Regions from separate parts of the Homo sapiens genome. Here region 1 is linked to region 2. The links come from fine-mapping of genetic effects on gene expression. A gene starts in region 2. The other region holds a variant in brackets. All regions are shown on one strand. Distances are between the middles of the regions.

Region 1 (9,056 bases), 52 kb before region 2:
CCCACCAGGACTGGCCCCAAAGAGGCAGGAGGTGGGAGTCTGGGTTGGCTGCAGAGGAGATATTGGTCTCTGTCACTTGCCGCGTCCACCAGCCCCAGAGCTCCCACTCTGCCCCAAACCACTTTAGACAATAGCTTCCTATAAACTCCCAGCTGGGCACCTCGTGTGGCTCAGCCTTGGGAAGTACCGCCTTGCCCTGCCCAGCAACCCAAATATCAGAATGCACTTGAGTCATAAGAAACTACCCTGGATTATAGGATTAAAGCCCCAGCTCCTGGACCTACATCTGACGCCCCTCTGATCCCAGATGGCCTCTCTCACCTCCTCTCCCCGCTCAATGACACACGCACCCTCCTCTCTGGCCATACCACACCCCTCCATGACTCACTGCAAATCTTCTGCCCCACTCTCCCCCTCTTTGTGGGTCCATCCCCTGCATCTAGAATTCCCTTTGCCCCCCACCTTGTTACCAACTCCAAAGCCACTTCCTTGAAGGCTTCTGGGGCACGGAAGCCCTTACTCTGCCCATAGGTGTGCCACACTTGCCTGTCCTGCTGTGGGCTGCGAGGTCCAAGGGCAGGGCTGGAGTCTGATTCACTGCTGGACACCCTGATGGGCACCCGCCGATACCAATGCATGTTTGTAGAGTTGGCATGAACGAGGTTCTTGCTCTTCCTCTACTGGACTCTGGGTGGGGAGGTGGCAGCTGGTGTTCTTTTTTTTTTTTTTTTTTAAGACAAAGTCTCACTGTGTCACTCAGGTTGGAGTGCAGTGGTGCCATCTCCCTTCACGACGAACTCCACCCCCCATCCCCAGGATCAAGCGATCCTCCCACCTCAGCCTCCCAGAGCTGGGACCACAGATGCGTGCCACCACGCCCAGGTATGTTTTGGTATTTTTGGTAGAGACGGGGTTTCACCATGTTGCCCAGGCTGGTCTTGAACTCCTGACCTCAAGCAATACATCAGCCTCTGCCTCCCAAAGTGTTGGGATTACAGGCGTGAGCCGCTGTGCCCAGCTGAGTGTTCTGACCCTTGGGCGGCCCTCACTCATTTTCCGGGAGCCTCGCCTTGCAGGGGTCCTCCCTGGGGCTGTTGGGAGGAAGGTTCAGACCCTGGAGCTGGGCTTCTGTGGGTCTAGACCCAGCCTGTGCTAATCACATGAGGCCCAGGCTAGAAAGCCATGTCAACACACCTCTCAAACACAGCCAGGGAGTCAGGGAGCCACCTAGGTCACACAGCCAGTGAATGTTGAGAGGGACCGTGGCATCCTGGCTCCTGCCCAGTTGCTGCCTCCTTCTCAGGAAAAACAAAATATCCTCACAGATCTTTTACCTTGTAACTTGAAGGGCTGCCTGTTGCATAAGCTCCAAGCATTGAGTCACGGTCAAGGGCCTGGCTAGCCTGCAGGGAGGGCTGGCTGTGGTGCGGCCCTGCTCCTGGGGCTTGTTGCAGCCAACAGGGAGGGCTGGGGGGCACCCCACAGAAGGCAGGGACAGAGCAGCAAGCATCAGGGGCTGCGCAGGAGTCTCGGTCGTTGCTCTGCCTGCAGCTGCTGGGAGACAGGCACAGCCTGGCACAGCGAAGGTGGCCATCGGTGAGTGAGCAAGTGATCGCCTGGCTGGGCACCAGGGGAGGCGGAAAGAACATGAGAACAAGCCTCCCCACTGCTGCCCGCCTGGAAGCTGTCGATCTCCCACAGGGCCCGCTGAGCCCAGCTGCTCTGAACCCAGTGGCAAGCGTGGGCCCCGCAGAGCCAGCCCTCCCCATACGCTGTGCTGGGGTCAGAGCGTGGACCCAGGGAAGACCGGGGCTACAGAACTGGGCAGGCCAGGAGGATCCCTGCACGGCCACTCAAGTCCTCAGCAGGGTTCTGGGGCCGCTGCGCCCGTGTCTGTATAGGCGTGGGTTCCTCTGCGTGGTTCCCTGGAACTTGGAGCCACATCCCCACCCCAGCACCCAAGTGGAAACTCATCTCCAAGAGCAAGATTCAGCCCCCACGTTTTGTTCAAAGGGTGGAGTTGGCTGGGCACGGTGGCTCATGCCTATAATCTCAGCACTTCGGAAGGCCGAGGCTGGCGGATCACCTAAGGTCAGGAGGTCAAGACCAGCCTGGCCAACATGGTGAAACCCTGTCTCTACTAAAAATACAAAAATTAGTTGGGCGTGGTGGCACATGCCTGTAATCCCAGCTACTTAGGAGGCTGAGGCAGAAGAATCTCTTGAACCTGGGAGGCGGAGGTTGCAATGAGCCGAGATTGCGCCACTGCACTCCAGCCTGGACAAGAGCTAAACTCCATCTCAAAAACAAAACAAAACAAAGAGTGGAATCACGTAGAGGGTGTCCTGTGCCTGTGACTTTGCAGAATGGAGAAGCTGGGTCAGAGTGGGAGGTCCAGGCTGCGGACCCCTAGAGACCCATGCTGAGCCAGCCCCCCAGCTTCCCCACTTCAGGACAGCCCTGCATCCTTGGCCTGGACTGCCCATCCCGTCCTCACCCACTTCCCCTCCAGCAGAGGCACGAGAGGCTATAAATAACACGGCTGTCTACAGGCCCAAAATCCATGGGCTTTGTACTGGCCTCTCTTTATTCAGGGCCCAGCAGCAGCCAGGCTGGAGACCCCAGGCTGGGGCAGCCTTGAGCGGGATGCAGGCACAGGCCCAGGCCTCCCACGCAGAGTGCTGACAGCTCCATTCCCAGCCCAGCCACAGGGTCCTGCCAGCTCTCCAGCCGGGAATTCAAAAGTGGCAGATGTGCCTCAGCCGGAGTCCCCGAGGACAGCCAAAGAGGAACCGAGGCACTGCTGCTGTGGGGACCAACGGGAGGCTTGCAGGCAGGACGAGTGTAGGCAGGGACCTCAGGGCTCCTCTGTAGAGGCGCCAGCGCCCGAAAGTAGGCCTTGTCTCTCCAGGTCGTTGCTGTCCACATCATTGCTGTCTGGGGTCCCTGCAGGAGGAAAGATGCTCAGCCTGCCCGAAGGTTGCAGAAGGTGCTTTGGGACCAGGCCTGGGCCTGGGCACGGGCTGTCAGGAAATCCTCTCTGTCCCAAATGCAGAATACATTCCAGATCCAACCCCTTGTCATCACCTTCAATGCCACTGGCGTGGTCTAGGCACCACTCTCCCCTGGAAGGGGAGTCGGCTATGCCTCTCGGCCTCAACACTGACCCTCCTACAGTCTGTTCTCAACACAGCAGCCAGGGAGATGCTTTGGCAACATCAATCAGACCACCTCGGTGCTCCTCTCCTGGAAGCCCCACAGCAGCTCCCGTCTCACTCTGAGCAAAAGCCACTGTCTTTACAAGGACTGCCTGCTCTGGCCCCGTATCCCTCACCCCTACCACTGTCCCTCTTGCTTCTGCTGCAGCCACACTGGCCTCCTTGCTGATCCTCAAACATATCAGGTGCATTCCCATGGCAGGGCCTTTGCATTGATTGTCCCCACTGCCGGAAGCGTCTTTCCCCAGGTCGCTGAACGGCTCACTCCCTCGTTTCCTCCAGATCTTTGCTCTAGTTTCGCCTGTGCAGTGGGGATCCTTGCAGCCTGCACCTACCTGTCCCTTTTTTTTTTTTTTTTTTTTTTTTGAGACAGTCTTGCTGTCGCCCAGGCTGGAGTGCAGTGGCGAGATCTCAGCTCACTATAGCCTCCGCCTCCCGGGTTCAAGTGATTCTCCTGCCTCAGCCTCCTGAGTAGCTGGGACTACAGGTGTGTGCCACCGCACCTGGCTAATTTTTATATTTTTAGTAGAGACAGGGCTTCACCATGTTGCCCAGGCTGGTCTTGAACTCCTAACCTTGTAATCCGCCCGCCTTGGCCTCCCCAAGTACTGGGATTACAGGTGTGAGCCACCGCGCCCGGCCCCTTTCTCCTTCCTTTCCTGCTTTATACCTCTCCATAGCACTCGTCACCCTGAACATGCTATATCTTTAACCTTTTCTGTTTCTGGTCTGTCTTCACCAACTACAGTGTCAGTTTCTACAGGGGCCTGGACTTGGCCTCATTCTTTCACTCCCCAGCATCTGCAACCTTCCCTGGTACATAGCAGGGGTGTACTAAGCATTTCTGGATGAATGAACAAACAAACTGGCCAGGGATTCAGGGGGTGGCCAGTGCTGTCTGTCCCTAGGGTGCCGGCCCTGAGCCGGGCCTGGTGCAATGGGTAGGGTACCTGTGACAGGCTGCCAGGCCCGGGTCTCGTCTCTCTCCAGGTACAGCGCAGTCAGCAGGAAGCAGCCGCCCCCCAGGGCGATGACAAAGGCGCAGCACAGGAAGCTCTGCTGCAGGCTGCGGAAGCGCTGCAGATAGGAGTCAGGGCGCCTGGCCCGCAGGACACTAGAGATCTGCGGAGGAGAAGGGATGAGTCTGCCAGGCCCACCAGCCTGGCCCCCAGACCCTCCCCACCCCACACACGCAGACACGTCTTACAAGTCCTGTGAGATAGGGGCTGCCAGCGTCTCCCAGGATGTGGCCCACCGTGATCTGAAGTGCCTCTGCCGTCCCCCGGCATCTGGGCACCACCACAGACTGCAAAACATAGGCACAGCAGGGGGGCACCCCAAGTGAGGGCACCCTTGCCTGCTGTTCCCCACCTGCCAAGGACCTGCCTGGAGGAGTGACAGGCCATTCAGGTGAGTGGGATGGGAGGGAGTCGACGGTCCCCAAGGTCTAAAGTCCCACCCCAGAACATCAAGACATCAAGCCCATCTGAAGCTTCCCCAGTGCCCCAGGATGGGGGTGCCAAGGCCCCTGATCAGGGCCACCCCTCTTGAGAGTTTGCTCTTGAACTGGGAAGGAACCAGGCATGCATGTGACCACAGTGAATGAGGCTGGGGTGTCCCAGCTCAGGGGCCCAGGATGCAGCAGCACAAGCGGGCAGGGCGAAGAGCGGGTGCATGCCAGGTGTCTGCATGTGCAGGCAATTGGGCAGGGGTGGTACGGAGGGCTCAGTCCTCTCAGGAACCTCAAGGCCCCTGGGGCAGAGACCAAAGGCGGCCTTGCTGGAGAAGCCCGCACGACTCCACGGACAAGGCTGAGAACATAAAGAAGATGAACTCTGGGCCAGGCGCGGTGGCTCACGTCTGTAATCCCAGCACTTTGGGAGGCCAAGGCGGGTGGATCACCCGAGGTCAGGAGGTCAAGACCAGCCTGGCAACATGGTGAAACCCTGTCTCTACTAAAAATACAAAAACTAGCCGGCGTGGTGGCACATGCCTGTAATCCCAGCTACTCGGGAGGTTGAGGCAGGAGAATTGCTTGAACACGGGAGGCGGAGGTTGCAGTGAGCTGAGATCGTACCACTGCAATCCAACCTGGGCAACAAGAGCAAAATCCCATCTCAAAAAAAAAAAAAATAAAAAAAATAAAGAACTCTGGTGTCACACACTCAGGTTCCGATCCAGATCCCCACTCGCTAGCTGTGTGACTTTGAGCAAACTGTTTCACCTTTCTTCCCTCAGTCTCTCCATCCCCAAGTGGGGGTAATAATGGTACTGATCTTGAGAGTTTTATTCATTATCGTTATTCGTCTGCTACCTGGAGGCTTCGTGTGGACATCAGACCAAAATAACGCTCTGAGACAGGATGCTCCAGGCCCTTGAACTCAGCTGCGCCTTCTGCCTGGCGTGCCTTCCACTCTCTGGTCCAGCTGGAGCATCTATATTTGTCATTTAGGACTTA[C/AC]GTTTCGGTCATCTCCTCTGTGAAGCCCTCTCAGAGTTCAGGTACCTGCCCTGAGCTCCCGCAACTCCTATGCACACCCCTAATTAACGCATGTCTCCCAGAACTGGGAGGGGCCCTTTCTCTGTCCACCACCCCTTATTCCCTATGTTGTGTGGGCAACAAAGACCCTTAATTTCTCTTGGGGTCCCTGCAAGACACCAGGCACAGAGGGGACTAGCTGAAAGTTTGCCAACCAAATAACTCAAGTAGGTCCATCTGGGAGACTATTCCCAGGAGAAAGTCTGCCAGAACCCAGGGCTACAGCAGGGGATGGAAGGAGGGAGGGGGAGGGGACTCAAGCAGAGACCACATGGTCACATGAACCCAACTGGACAGCCACAGGGGCGCTTACACCCTGGAGCCGTATCCCCAAGACCTAGGTGTCCATGATCTGAGGCCTTGAGTTAATCAATATTAGCTGGGCACAGTGGCTCACACCTGTAATCCCAGCACTTTGGGAGACTGAGGCAGGTGGATCACTTGAGGTCAGGAGTTCAAGACCAGCCTGGCCAACATGGCGAAATCCCATCTCTACTAAAAATACAAAAATTAGCTGGGTGTGGTGGCGCGTGCCTATAATCCCAGCTACTCAGGAGGCTGAGGCAGGAGAATCGCTTGAACCCGGGAGGTGGAGGTTCTAGTGAGCCGAGGTGGCACCACTATACTCCAGCCTGAGTGAAAGAGCAAGATCCTGTCTCAAAAAATAATAATAAAATAATAATAATTGCCAACATTTATTGAATGCTTGCTGTATACATTTTATATATCAACTTGAACAACCCATGAGAGGGAGATGATGATCACCTGCATTTTTACAGATGAGGAAAACCTCCACAGGGAGGGCAAGTGACTTGCCCAACATCACCCAGCCTGAAATAACAGGGCTGAGAGAGGATTGCAGGCCTTCTCCCTCTAGGATCTGGCCTTTTGACCACTCTGCTGTGATGGGCAAGGAGGAGCCGGTGTTTCTAGCAATATTTATGCATTTGTAATAGAACATTCAGAAATCTGAGAAAGATGAGGAGGACAAGTTCATCACTAGCCCTGTAAACGGATGGCAGAGTAACTGGCAAAGAGACGGGGAAAGGCATTCCAGGCAGGGGACAGTGTAAGCGACGGTGTGGAGGGAGGATCCCAGGGACACGATCTCTGGATTCCAGAATCCCAGGGGACAGATGCAGGGGGTTTGGTGGTGGGCAGGGCAGAGTGGCAGGAGGCACTGTAGTGACTCGCTGGTCCCAGGGTCACTGGGACTGAGCCACCATGTACAGGTGGCAAGAGAAACCGGGCCTCTTGCCATCACCAGGATCTGTCAACAGGCCTGAGAAGGAACTGACCAACAGCTTTGCACCTTCCCCAAGGACTTCCTTCTCACCCCATAATTATGTGATTACTCACTGGTGGCTCTGGGAAGGCAGGTGAGGCTTCCTGGAGGGAGGAACCTGAATGTTCAGAAAGGTCCACATGGAGGCTGGGGCTGCTGGGACCCCCACAGTTAGGTCCAGGTAGGCTGGCCCCTTCCTCCTCTCCCAGGAACCCCAACCTGCTGGGCCCAGCTCAGTCACTGCTGCCAGTGGCGAGAGAGGTGGGTCTCCCCCAGCCTGTTCCAAGTCCTCATTGTCTCCGTGCAGCCAGCAGCCAAGGCTGGGCCCACAGAAGCTGGAGAGCCCAGGGGGTAATTTCAGAAATAAGAGGCTTTGGGTTCCCAAAAATCCAGGCTCACTCTATTCTGAGACAAAAACACCTCTGTTTCTGGCTCTCCCTTCTTAGAAGGGCCGTTCCCTTTATAGCCGAGGGCGAAACCAGGGCCACCCAAGGGCTTGCAGCAAGTCGGAGCAGCAGCCACCAGGCAGCCTGCCTCCTGCACCCCCACCCAGGCCTCGCCCCCAGACGCCCCTGAGAGGGTGAGACAGGCCAGTGAGCAGACAGCTACCTGGGGGGCAGAGGCTGAGCAGGGAAGCATGGAGACCTGGGGCAGGGGGAGAACGCAGAGGTGACAACTCTCCGGGGAACTGTGGGGACGTCTGCTGAGGGGTGGGAGATGAGCCTGTGGCTGGATTCCAGGACCCCAGAGGACAGGGCTGAGAAAGAGGGAATGAGCTCCCCTTCTGCTCTAGCCCCCCAACTGGTTGGGATCCAGAGATCGTGCCCCTGGGATCCTCCCTCCACACCTTTGCTTACACTGTCCCCTGCCTGGAGGGGGATTGGGGTGAGCTGGCTCTGGGCCATCCTGAGTGGGGCGGGGACAGACAGCAGGGCTGGGAGGGAGCTGAAGACCTCATGACTAGGTTTCGGGAGGCAGGGAGCTCTGCCTGGGGAGATGCGGGTTCAGGGGACACGATCTCAGTCTCCAGGGAGCAGGGCCCCTCTATGGCCCAGCGGGGCCAAGGGGAGGCTGGCAGAGGTGGGTCTTGGCTGTGACTGAACCAAATCATTTTCATCAACAGAAACCCCCCGAGAGGCAGGGGCTGCCCGAGGTATGCAGAACGAGCTCCCCATTGGAGGCGTATGTCAACAAGGGGATGGCTAGAATTTGGCAAAGCATTTATGGACTGGGGAGCTTGCGGCGTGAGACCAGTGTTCTCAAAGCGTGCTCTACGGAATGCTACGGCAGGATCACTTGGGAAGTTCATCAGAAATGCAGGTCCCTGGACCCCAGCACGGACCCACTGAATCAGACTCAGAGGACACAGGGCCTGGAATCTGGGTTTGTCACAAGCTCCCTCAAATCTGACTCTCATGCACAATGACGTCTCCAAGCCACCGGACCGGAGAGCCCCTGAGGTCCCTTCTCCAGAGATAACCTGGATTCTCCCCATTGTGGAGATGGCATCAAAGAGAACAGTGTCCTGGACAGGCGCAGTGGCTCACACCTATAATCCCAGCATTCTGGGAGGCCAAGGGGGGCGGATCATGAGGTCAAGAGATCGAGACCATCCTGGCCAACATGGTGAACCCCGTCTCTACTAAAAATACAAAAATTAGCTGGGCGTGGTGGCGCATGCCTGTAGTCCCAGCTATTCAGGAGGCTGAGGCAGGAGAATCGCTTGAACCCAGGAGGCAGAGGTCGCAGTGAGCTGAGATCGCACCACTGCACTCCAGCCTGGCGACAGTGCGAGACTCCGTCTCAAAAGTAAAAAAAAAAAAAAAGAGAGAGAGAGAGCAGTGTCCCAAGGAAGGGATGATCTGGAAGTCAGTGGGGCCCACACGCCCACTCAGGAATCTGCAGGACGCAGGTGTGAGTTCATTCTATCCTTATAGCCTGGGGTGTCAATGGTGGTTGCCACCGCTCTACCTACTGGACAGGTGAGCAAACCAAGACCCAGAGAGGTTCAGTCACT
Region 2 (10,340 bases):
GCTCCTCCTTACCAGTCTGAAGCAAACCAGCATGGTTGTCACTGATCTGGAAAACCTCCTGTATATCCAGCAGCACTCCTGCAGACAGAGGGACAGTGCTCAGGAAACGGGAAGTAGCCCTCCTGGCCTCTAAAGGCAGCTGCTCCAGGTTTGGCACAGGGCCACAGCTGACCAGCACAGCACAGGGCATGGCACCCAAGCCCACTGTTCTCTCCCCCTCTCTCCCATACAGCTGTACAACCACACACACAAGAGCAGGCACACAGAGAAACGTGTGCATTTCAAACACTCAAAGAAACAAGCATCCCTTGGCTGGGCACGGTGGCTCACGCCTGTAATCTCAGCAGTTTGGGAGGCCAAGGCTGGCGGATCACCTGAGGTCAGGAGCTTGAGACCAGCCATGGTCAACGTGGTGAAACCCCGTCTCTACTAAAAGTACAAAAAATTAGCCGGACGTGGTGGCGGGCGCCTGTAATCCCAGCTACTCGGGAGGCTGAGGCAGGAGAATTGCTTGAGCCTGGGAGGTGGAGGTTGCAGTGAGCCGAGATCGCGCCATTGCACTCCAGCCTGGGCAACAAGAGCCACGCTCCATCTCAAAAAAAAAAGAAAGAAAAAGAAAGAAAGAAGCATCCCAAAGGCACAGACATTCACACACACACACTGACACATAAGCACGCAGCCACACGGCTCCTTCCCTCCTCTTCATATGGGAACACAGATATAGATACAAACAGGCATTCCCAGAGAAACACACCTGCAGAGGCACAAATACACACACACACACACACACACACAGGAACTCACTCTCACAGACATGTACACCCAGCCTCACTCATACACCCAGACACACAGACACATGTGCAGTGAGATGTGCACCCAGAGGCCTGCCCGCGTATGCACAGGCTCAGGGCTGCCATCCACACTGCAGTCAGAGGAGCGGCAGCCCCCTGTCGCTGCTCAGTGCACAGCCCTTTACTTAGGCCACTGTGTAAACGGAAGTCCCTGGAGCTGTACAGCACAGTGGCCTCGCTCATGCACAAACACTGGAAATGCATAGGTGAACATGTACATAAAAAGACGAACGTGTCCTGGCTTGCACGCATGTGCACACACAAGCCTGTTCTTCCAGAGGCACAGCAGTGGGCACCCAGCCTAATGTAGAGAGAGAAAGTGGGTCTCCCAGACACCAGGGTCTGTTTCCTGATAGCCTCTTGGTGTCCTAGAAAGGGTCGGGGTCTGCAGCACCTGCTCACGTGAGCCATGCGGCTCTGGCCCTGTCATTATTATGAAGAAGAACAATCCTCACTTTCATCAGTCAGGAGGTGACTGACAGCCAGGCCCTGAGCTGTACACTCGCAGTTGTCATCCTAAAAGAGGGGGACTGTCATTGCCCCCATTCTACAGATGAGGAAACAGAGGCTTTAGCGGCCCAAGGTTGCCCGTCTGAAGCTGGGGGAGCTGGGGCTCAAATCTCAGCCAGAGGCAGCCTGTCCACACACCCAGAACCACAGAAGGGGAGCAGAAGCCCCCAAGTGGGTCCCCGCAGAAACACCCACACCAAGAAAGCCCTGCGTGCACACCTCTAAGAGCTGCCCCATGCACATGAAGATCAAGGGATCAGAGGAGCAAAGCAAAAAATCCTTGCTCAGGGAGGGACGTGGTGGCTCACGCCTGTAATCCCAGCACTTTGGGAGGCCGAGGCCGGCAGATCTTGAGGTCAGGAGATCAAGACCATCGTGGCTAACACAGTGAAATCCCATCTCTATTTAAAAATACAAAAAATTAGCCAGATGTTGTGGCACAGGCCTGTAGTCCCAGCTACTCAGGAGGCTGAGGCAGGAGAATCGCTTGAACCTGGGAGGCGGAGGTTGCAGTGAGCTGAGATCATGCCACTGCACTCCAGCCTGGGCGACAGAGTGAGACTCCGTCTCCAAAAAAAAAAAAAAAGAAATCTTTGTTTAGACATTTAATTTGTCCCCAATTGCCACTGCAACCTGGCATACAAACTGTTATGTCTTTTTCCCCTTTTAATATTTTGTTTTTTATTTTTATTTTATTTATTTATTTTTGAGACTGAATCTCACTATTTCATCCAGGCTGAAGTGCAGTGACACGATCTCAGCTCACTGCAACCTCTGCCTCCTGGGTTCAGGCAATTTTCCTGCCTCGGCCTCCCAAGTAGCTGGGATTACAGGTGCCCGCCATCACGCCTGGCTAATTTTTGTATTTTTAGTAGAGACGGGGTTTCACCATTTTGGCCAGTCTGGTCTCGAACTCCTGATCTCAGGTGATCCACCTGCCTCGGCCTCTCAAAGTCCCCCTTTTATTATTTTAAATACACAAAGAAGACAGTCATTGGAAAGAAAAAAAGGAGACAACACAGGTAAGCAAAATAAATAGCTAAACGAAAATGCTCCAAATTGTGCCCATCTTCCATTTTCAGGAATGAGGACTCATCCCCTTGTTTTCTCTCCTCCTGGGCTCCTCTCAGCCCCATGGTACTCTAGAGGTGATCCAGAGCCAAGCGTGCACCCACCCTTGCTTTCATCTGTAGCCTACCACCCTGGCCCCATAAGAGCTGTTTCCTGCAAGAACATTTTAGCTGTTTACCCCCACCAGTTCCCAGATGCTCAGCACGGTTTCACTTCTCCAGGTCTCTATCCCCACAGTAACCACAGCCCCCTTTCTTGCACATACAGAGGAAGTGCTGATGGAGAAGGGACCTGGACAGGCAAGACTCAGGGTCTTAGGGCCCAGCCAGGGACCTCCAGGGCTAGCGGCAGAGATAGCGGGTCCCCAGGCTCGTGGGTTCAGAGAGCTCCACACTGGTGATTCCTGGCTCCCATCCACCTCTTGCCCCTTCTCGCCTTTGCGTGCCCTTGGCCCACACTCCAACTCAGGCCTCCTCAGCTTTGGCCTGATCCACTACAGCAGCCTCTGAACTGACTCCCTGGCTCATTTTGCCTCCATCAGGGCCTCAAATCCAATTATATGGCTCCCCATTGCCCAAGGCAGAAAGTCCAAGCTCCCAGTCTGGCACCCAAGAAGCTCTGTTCTCACCCCATACACCCCTTTGGGGTTTTTTGTTTCATGTGTTTTGTTTTGCTTTGTTTTGGCTTTTTGTCTTTAGGGGTTTAGATAAGATCTTGCTCTGTCACTCAGGCTAGAGGGCTCACCGCAGCCTCAAGCAATCCTCCCGCTTCAGCCTCAAGCAATCCTCCTGCTTCAGCCTCAAGCAATCCTCCTGCTTCAGCCTCCCGAGAGGCTGAAGACATCACTGTCCCTGGCTAATTTTTTAAATTTTTTGTAGAGACAAGGTTTTTCTATGTTACCCAGGCTGGTCTCGAACTCCTGACCTCATGTGAGGAGAAGCTCCTGACCTCTGAGCTCCTCAAAGACGATGACCAGGTCTGGGGATGGCTCTGCAGCCCCTAGAGTTTCATGATTCCATAGCCACTCTCTGGCATGCTGAGCTGGTAACTGACAGATCGATGCCCAGGTCTCAGAGATGCCTGGCAGCTGCAGGCACCCTCCTGAGCTCCCAGCCCGGCCTGTGCCTCCCCCTTGTCTGGCCGCACCTCTCCGCCTCGCAGGACTGCCATCAACCAGCCTCTATCTCTGCCCCATGAGATGGTCATTCCTGAGTTCAGGAACTCCAAGTCCGATTTCCTCCCTGGGTCCACAGCAGCCAGCAGGGGGTCCTGCCCACAGTTAGTGCTCAGCCGGTCTTGAATGAATGAATGACAAGAAGAGAAGAGCAAGTGGAGCCTCAATCAGCTGTTGTTATTGTTGTTGTCTTTGTTTGAGACGGAGTCTCGCTCTGTCGCCCAGGCTGGAGTGCAGTGGCACGATCTCAGCTCACCGCAACCTCCGCCTCCCGGGTTCAAGCGACTGTCCTGCCTCAGCCTCCCGAGTAGCTGGGATTACAGGCGTGAGCCACCACGCCTGGCCCCTGATCAGTCTTGAATGAATGAATGAGTGAGTGAGTTAGTGAATGAGTGACAGAAGACAGAGCAGGTTGAGCCCTGAAGCCTGCAAGAAGGAAGGCAGGACGTGTGAGGTTTGCGAGCAGCCTGTTGTCCTAGAAACACAGCCAGCAGGAGCTATTCTTGTCTGGCCCAGGCTACCCTGTCCTCCACCTAGAACCTGGGGGCCTCTGCCTGGAAGTCCTGCCTGCTGTCCTCACCCACCCACCCCTCATTATGTCTCTGGCCCCACCCCCACTGTGCCCTCCCTTAATTTTTAAAAAATATTTATTTATTTATTTATTTTTTATTTTTTATTTTTTTTTTTTTGAGACAGAGCCTTGCTCTGTCGCCCAGACTGGAGTGCAATGGTGGGATCTTGGCTCAATGGTGGGATCTCGGCTCACTGCAACATCCACCTCCCAGGTTCAAGCAATTCTCTGCCTCAGCCTCCCCAGTAGCTGAGATTACAGGTGCCCGCTACCATGCTCGGCTAATTTTTGTAGTTTTAGTAGAGACGGGGTTTCACCATGTTGCCCAGGCTGGTCACAAAGTCCTCACTTCAAGTGATCCGCCCACCTTGGCCTCCCACAGTGCTGGGATTACAGGCCTGAGCCACCGCACCCAGCCCTAAAATATTTTTAATTTTTTAAATAGAGACAGAGTTTCGGCTGGGCGCAGGGGCTCATGCCTATAATCCCAACACTTTGGGAGGCCGAGGCAGGCGGATCACCTGAGGTCTGGAGTTCGAGACAGCCTGGCATACACGGCAAAACCCCGTCTCTACTAAAAATACAAAAACTAGCCTGGCATGGTGGTATGCGCCTGTAGTCCCAGCTACTCGGGAGGCTGAGATAGGAATCGCTTGAACCTGGGAGGCAGAAGTTGCAGTGAGCCGAGATCGCGCCACTGCACTCCAGCCTGGGCAACAGATTGAGACTCTGTCTCAAGAAAAAAAAAAAAGGCCGGGCACGGTGGCTCATGCCTGTAATCCCAGCACTTTGGGAGGCCGAGGCGGGTGGATCACCTGAGGTCAGGAGTTCGAGACCAGCCTGACTAGCATGGTAAAACCCCGTCCCTACTCCTCCTCTACTCAAAATACAAAAATTAGCCGGATGTGGTGGTGCACGCCTGTAATCCCAGCTACTCGGGAGGCTGAGGCAGGAGAATCACTTGAACCTGGGAGACAGAGGTTGCAGTGAGCTGAGATTGCGCCACTACACTCCAGCCTGGGCGACAGAGCGAGACTCTGTCTCAAAAAAAAAAATAAATAAATAGAGACAGAGTCTCACTATGTTGTCCAGGTTGGTCTCAAACTCCTGGGCTCAAGCAATCTTCCTGCCTCAGCCTCCCAAAGTGCTGGAATTACAAGCGGGAGCCACCATGCCCAGCCTGTGTCCCTTCTTAGTTGAGGCTGGATTGGGAACATCAGTTGGTCCTCCCCGATTCGAGCACAGCTGAAAACCACCTCTAGAGGTGAGAACACCAGAGATGGGCCCAGGAGCAGAAAGATGGGTGATGGCTGGAAGGCCACCATGGATCTGCAGCCCCTGGCTGGTGGGCACAGCAGCAGGTACTGCCCAGGGTAGCCATCCCCTCCTCACCTGCAATGATGAACCAGTTCATGTAATTCAGGAGGTTGATGTAGCAGAGGACGGCGGCAGCCACGTAGGCCCTCCACGGGGGCAGGCTCCAGGAGGTGGGCGTGATGGGAGGGGGACACTGCCTGCCTGGCCCTGGGGACTGGCCCTGCAGACCTCCTGGCCCAGGCTCAGGGCACTCCGCTGACATCCCCCCAGCCATGCCAGCCTGCAGCTCTTGGCCTGAGACTGGCGCCAGGATGAAGCAACATTAGCTCAGCACGAAGTCACTTCCTGTGGGGTCCCAGGCTCCAAACCTCAAAGCACCTGCCCTAACTGTTGGGCGTCTTATCGCAGGTTCCTCCTGACCCCACGGCAGCTTCACCAGTGCGATTTCCCCATCGTCAGCCTCTGAGACCTGCTACGGAGGACAAGGGCTCCTGGCACCCCCACCCTGGGGACTGGACAACTCTGTGGTCCCCTTGATCTAGCCTGCAGCTTCAGTGGCTGCAGTGAGGAAGGGAAGCTTCCAGGGCAGGAAATGAGATGAGCCTCCCAGAGTGCTGCTTGCTGTGAGATGGTCTAGCTGCCCGTACGGGACTGTGAACCAATGCCTTGAAGCCGGGGCAAATGAGGAAGGCTGGGCATTGGCCAGGACAGCAGCATTGCACTCGACTGCCAGGCAGGATGAGCACCTACCCAGGATCTAAGGTCCTTCCCGGAAAAACAAAGGTAGCAGAGGGGGCTGCCTACAAGAAGACAGCCTGTGTGCAAAACTCATCAGTGGGGGCTAAATCTGGGGGGAAGACTTCAGTGAGGGGGGAGGGTGTCAGCACGGTCACGAAGCATCTCTTGATAGATTGCTTATTAGTAACAAAAGGAAAAAGAGTAACTATACAGTAGAGGAATCAGACATCTTGACCAAGGGGTTAAAATAAATCACCTGTGAGAGGCAGGAGGGTGTCGTGTGCCTCCAGATGTGAAGGTCTTCGCAGGTCACAGCATCATCTATGTGGCATTCCAGCCAGGAAGGCACAACCGGAATCTCATCATGAGAAGACATCAGCCAGACGCGGTGGCTCGCACCTGTAATCCTAACACTGGGAGGCCAAGACAGGAGGATCATCCAAGCCCAGAAGTTTGTGACCAGCCTGGGCAACATGGTGAAACCCCATTGCTACAAAAATACCAAAAAAATAAAAAATTTTAAAAAAAAATAGCCGGGTGTAGTGGTGTGCGTCCACAGTCCCAGCTACTTGGGAGGCTGAGGTAGGAAGGATCGCCTTAGCCTGGGAAGTCGAGGCTGCAGTGAGCCATGTTCGTGCCACTGCACTCCAGGCTGGGTGACAAAGCAAGACCCCAACTCAAAAAAAAAAATTTTTTTTTTAATTTTTAAAATGAAAAAACATCAGACAAGCCCAAATTGAGAAACACTATTTCTTTAAAGGGACTGTATATTGAAAAATGTCAGAGTCATGAAAGACTAAGAAAGACTGAGGGAGCTAGGCGTGGTGGCTCACGCTTGTTATCCCAGCACTTTGGGAGGCCGAGGCAGGTGGATCACCTGAGGTCGGGAGTTCAAGATCAGCCTGACCAATGTGGAGAAACCCCGTCTCTACTAAAAATACAAAACTAACTAGGCATGGTGGCAGGTGCCTGTAATCTCAGCTACTCGGGAGGCTGAGGCAGGAGAATTGCTTGAACCCGGGAGGCACAGGTTGTGGTGAGCCAAGATCACGCCATTACACTCCAGCCTGGGCAACAAGAGCAAAACTCTGTCTCGAAAAAAAAAAAATATTCTGAGGGACTGTTTTGGATTAAAAGCAACAAAGAGACAAGATAGGCCAGGCGCGGTGGCTCATGCCTGTAATCCCAGCACTTTGGGAGGCCCAGGCGGGCGGATCACGAGGTCAGGAGTTCGAGACCAGTCTGGCCAACATAGTGAAACCCTGTCTCTACTAAAAATACACAAAAAAGTAGCTGGGTGTGGTGGTGTGCACCTGTAGTCCCAGCTACTCAGGAGGCTGAGGCAGGAGAATCATGTGAACCCGGGAGGCAGAGGTTGCAGTGAGCCAAGATCGTGCCACTGCACTCTAGCCTGGGTGACAGAACAAGACTCCGTCTCAAAAAAAAAAAAAAAAAAAAGAGAGACAAGACAATAAGACAATTAAGAGCAGTACAGGATCCCAACCTCGCTCCTGTACTGGATCAACTGATAAAACTGGATCAGGAAGAAATAGCATATCAGCATCTGTGAACTATGGTTATGTAAGTAAATAAGTAAATATCCTTATCTGAAGTATCTAGAGGTACAGGGCCATGATTTATGCCACTCATTCTCAAACGGTTCAGGAAAAAATATTAGATATGTATAGTAAGAAAACAAATGGGGCAAATATTAATAATAGATGAATCTGGGTAAAGATTATAAGAGTTTCTTTACGCTATATGATAAACTTTCTATAAGTTATAAATTATATCTAAACAAAAAGTTAAAGCATAAAATGACAAACCAATTTAAAAATGGGTGAAGAGCCGGGCATAGTGGCATGGACCTGTAGTCCCAGCTACTCTGGAGGCTGAGGTGGAAGGATCACTTAAGCCTGGGAGGTTGAGGCCACAGTGAGCTATAATCATGCCACTGTACTCCAGCTTGGGCAACAGAGTGAGATCCCATCTCTAAAGAAAAAAAACATCAGGGGGACAAAAATGGGCCAAGGAGTTGAACAGACATTTCTCTGAAGATATACAGGTGACCGACAAGCACATAAAAAGATGTTCAGGCTGGGCACAGTAGCTCACGCCTGCAATCCCAGCACTTTAGGAGGCTCAGGTGGGTGGATCACAAGGTTGGGAGTTCGAGACCAGCCTGGCCAACATAGTGAAACTCCATATCTACTAAAAATACAAAAATTAGCTGGGCGTGGTGGCATGTGTCTGTAATCCCAGCTATTTAGGAGGCTGAGGCAGGAGAACTGCTTGAACCCGGGTGGCAGAGGTTGCGGTGAGCTGAGATCACACCACTGCACTCTAGCCTGGGTGACAGAGCGAGACTTCATCTCGGGGGAAAAAAAAAAAAAGAAAGAAAAATGTTCAACATCACAAGTCATTAGGAAAATGGCAGATTGAAGCCACCATAAGATATCAGTTCGTACCCACTAAGACGGCTATAATTTTAAAAAGAGAGAGAGAGGAAATAACAAATGTTGGTGGAGAGATTGAAAGCCTCATGCATTGCTGGGAATGTGGAGTAAGGCAGCCGCAGTGGAACAAAGTTTGGCAGTTCCTCCAAAGGTTAAACATAAAATTACCATATGGCCCTGCAATTCCAATCCTAGGTATATATCCAAAAGAACTGAAAACAGGCCAGGTACAGTGGCTCACACCTGTAATCCCAGCACTTTGGGAGGCCGAGGCAGGTGGATCACGATGTCAGGAGTTCAAGACCAGCCTGGCGAAGACAGTGAAACCCTGTCTCTACTAAAACTACAAAAAAATTATCCAGGCACGGTGGCAGGCGCCTGTAATCCCAGCTACTCGGGAGGCTGAGGCAGGAGAATCACTTGAACCCAGGTGGCAGAGATTGCAGTGAGCCTACATTGCACCACTGCACTCCAGCCCGGGTGACAGAGTAAGACTCTGTCTCAAAAAAAAAAAAAAAAAAAAAAAGAATTGAAAACAAAGACTATTTTGAGCCTCTAATCTCAGCACTTTGGGAGGCCAAGGCAGACGGATCGCTTGAGGTCAAGAGTTCAAGGCTGGGCGCGGTGGCTCACACCTGTAATCCCAGCACTTTGGGAGGCTGAGGCAGGTAGATCACAAGGTCAGGAGATCGAGACCATCCTGGCTAACACGGTGAAACCCTACCTCTATTAAAAATACAAAAAGTTAGCTGCGCATGGTGGCGGGCGCCTGTAGTCCCAGCTGCTCAGGAGGCTGAGGCATGAGAATGGCATGAACCCAGGAGGCGGAGCTTACAGTGAGCCAAGATCACGCCACTGCACTCCAGCCTGGGCGACAGGGTGAGATTCCATCTCAAAAAAAAAAAAAAAAGAGTTTGAAATCAACCTGACCAACATGGTGAAACCCCGTCTTTACTAAAAAATCCAAAAAATTTAGCTGGGCATAGTGGCACACACCTGTAGTCCCAGCTACTCGGGAGGCTGAGGCATGACAATTGTTTGAACCCTGGAGGGAGAGGTTGCAATGAGCCAAGATGGGACCACTGTACTCTAGCTGGGGCAACAGAGCAACTTTGTCACTCTGTCTCAAAAAAAGAAAAAAAAAAAAGAAAAGAAAAGAAAACAAAGACTCAAACAAATACTTGTACATAAATGTTCATGGCAGCACTGTTCATAACAGCCAAAAGGTGGAAACAGCTTAAACGCCCATCTGATAAATGGGTCAAGAAAATGTGGCATAATCATACAATGGAATAGTATCCAGTCATAAAGAGGAAGGAAGTACTGATTCATGCTACAACACGGATAGACCTTAAAAACATTATGCTGGCTGGTCACAGTGGCTCACGCCTGTAATCCCAGCACTTTGGGAGCCCGAGGCAGACAGATCACCTGAGGTCAAGAGTTTGAGACCAGGCTGATCAACAAGGTGAGACTCCATCTCTACTAAAAATACAAAAATAATCCGGGTGTGGTGGCACCGCACTTGTAATCCCAGCTACTCAGAAGGCTGAGGCAGGACAATGGCTTGAACCTAGGAGGTGGAGGTTGCAGTGAGCCGAGATTGTGCCACTGCACTCCAGCCTGGGCGACAGAGTGAGACTCCGTCTCGG

What was found.
Region 1: its variant is fine-mapped to the expression of SPNS3 in whole blood (TOPMed, PIP 0.94).

The regions. Positions count from the first base shown.
Region 1 is chr17:4,481,696-4,490,751 of GRCh38, reverse strand. It overlaps SPNS3 (SPNS lysolipid transporter 3, sphingosine-1-phosphate (putative)), which reads right to left. Exons shown (of 12, transcript NM_182538.5): 10 at 4,426-4,524; 11 at 4,169-4,340; 12 at 2,548-2,946. The coding sequence ends at 2,858. LOC124903899 (a long non-coding RNA gene) reads left to right here and starts at 4,300. Exons shown (of 2, transcript XR_007065583.1): 1 at 4,300-4,628; 2 at 8,163-9,056. It overlaps SPNS2-AS1 (SPNS2 antisense RNA 1), which reads left to right. Exons shown (of 3, transcript XR_001752763.2): 3 at 761-879. RefSeq lists enhancers at 91-591, 1-1,101, 4,230-4,309, 9,024-9,056. The variant C/AC (reference allele first, on the strand shown) is at 5,677.
Region 2 is chr17:4,429,396-4,439,735 of GRCh38, reverse strand. SPNS3 (SPNS lysolipid transporter 3, sphingosine-1-phosphate (putative)) reads right to left here and starts at 5,796. Exons shown (of 12, transcript NM_182538.5): 1 at 5,570-5,796; 2 at 13-78. The coding sequence starts at 5,768. RefSeq lists enhancers at 1-347, 5,080-5,734.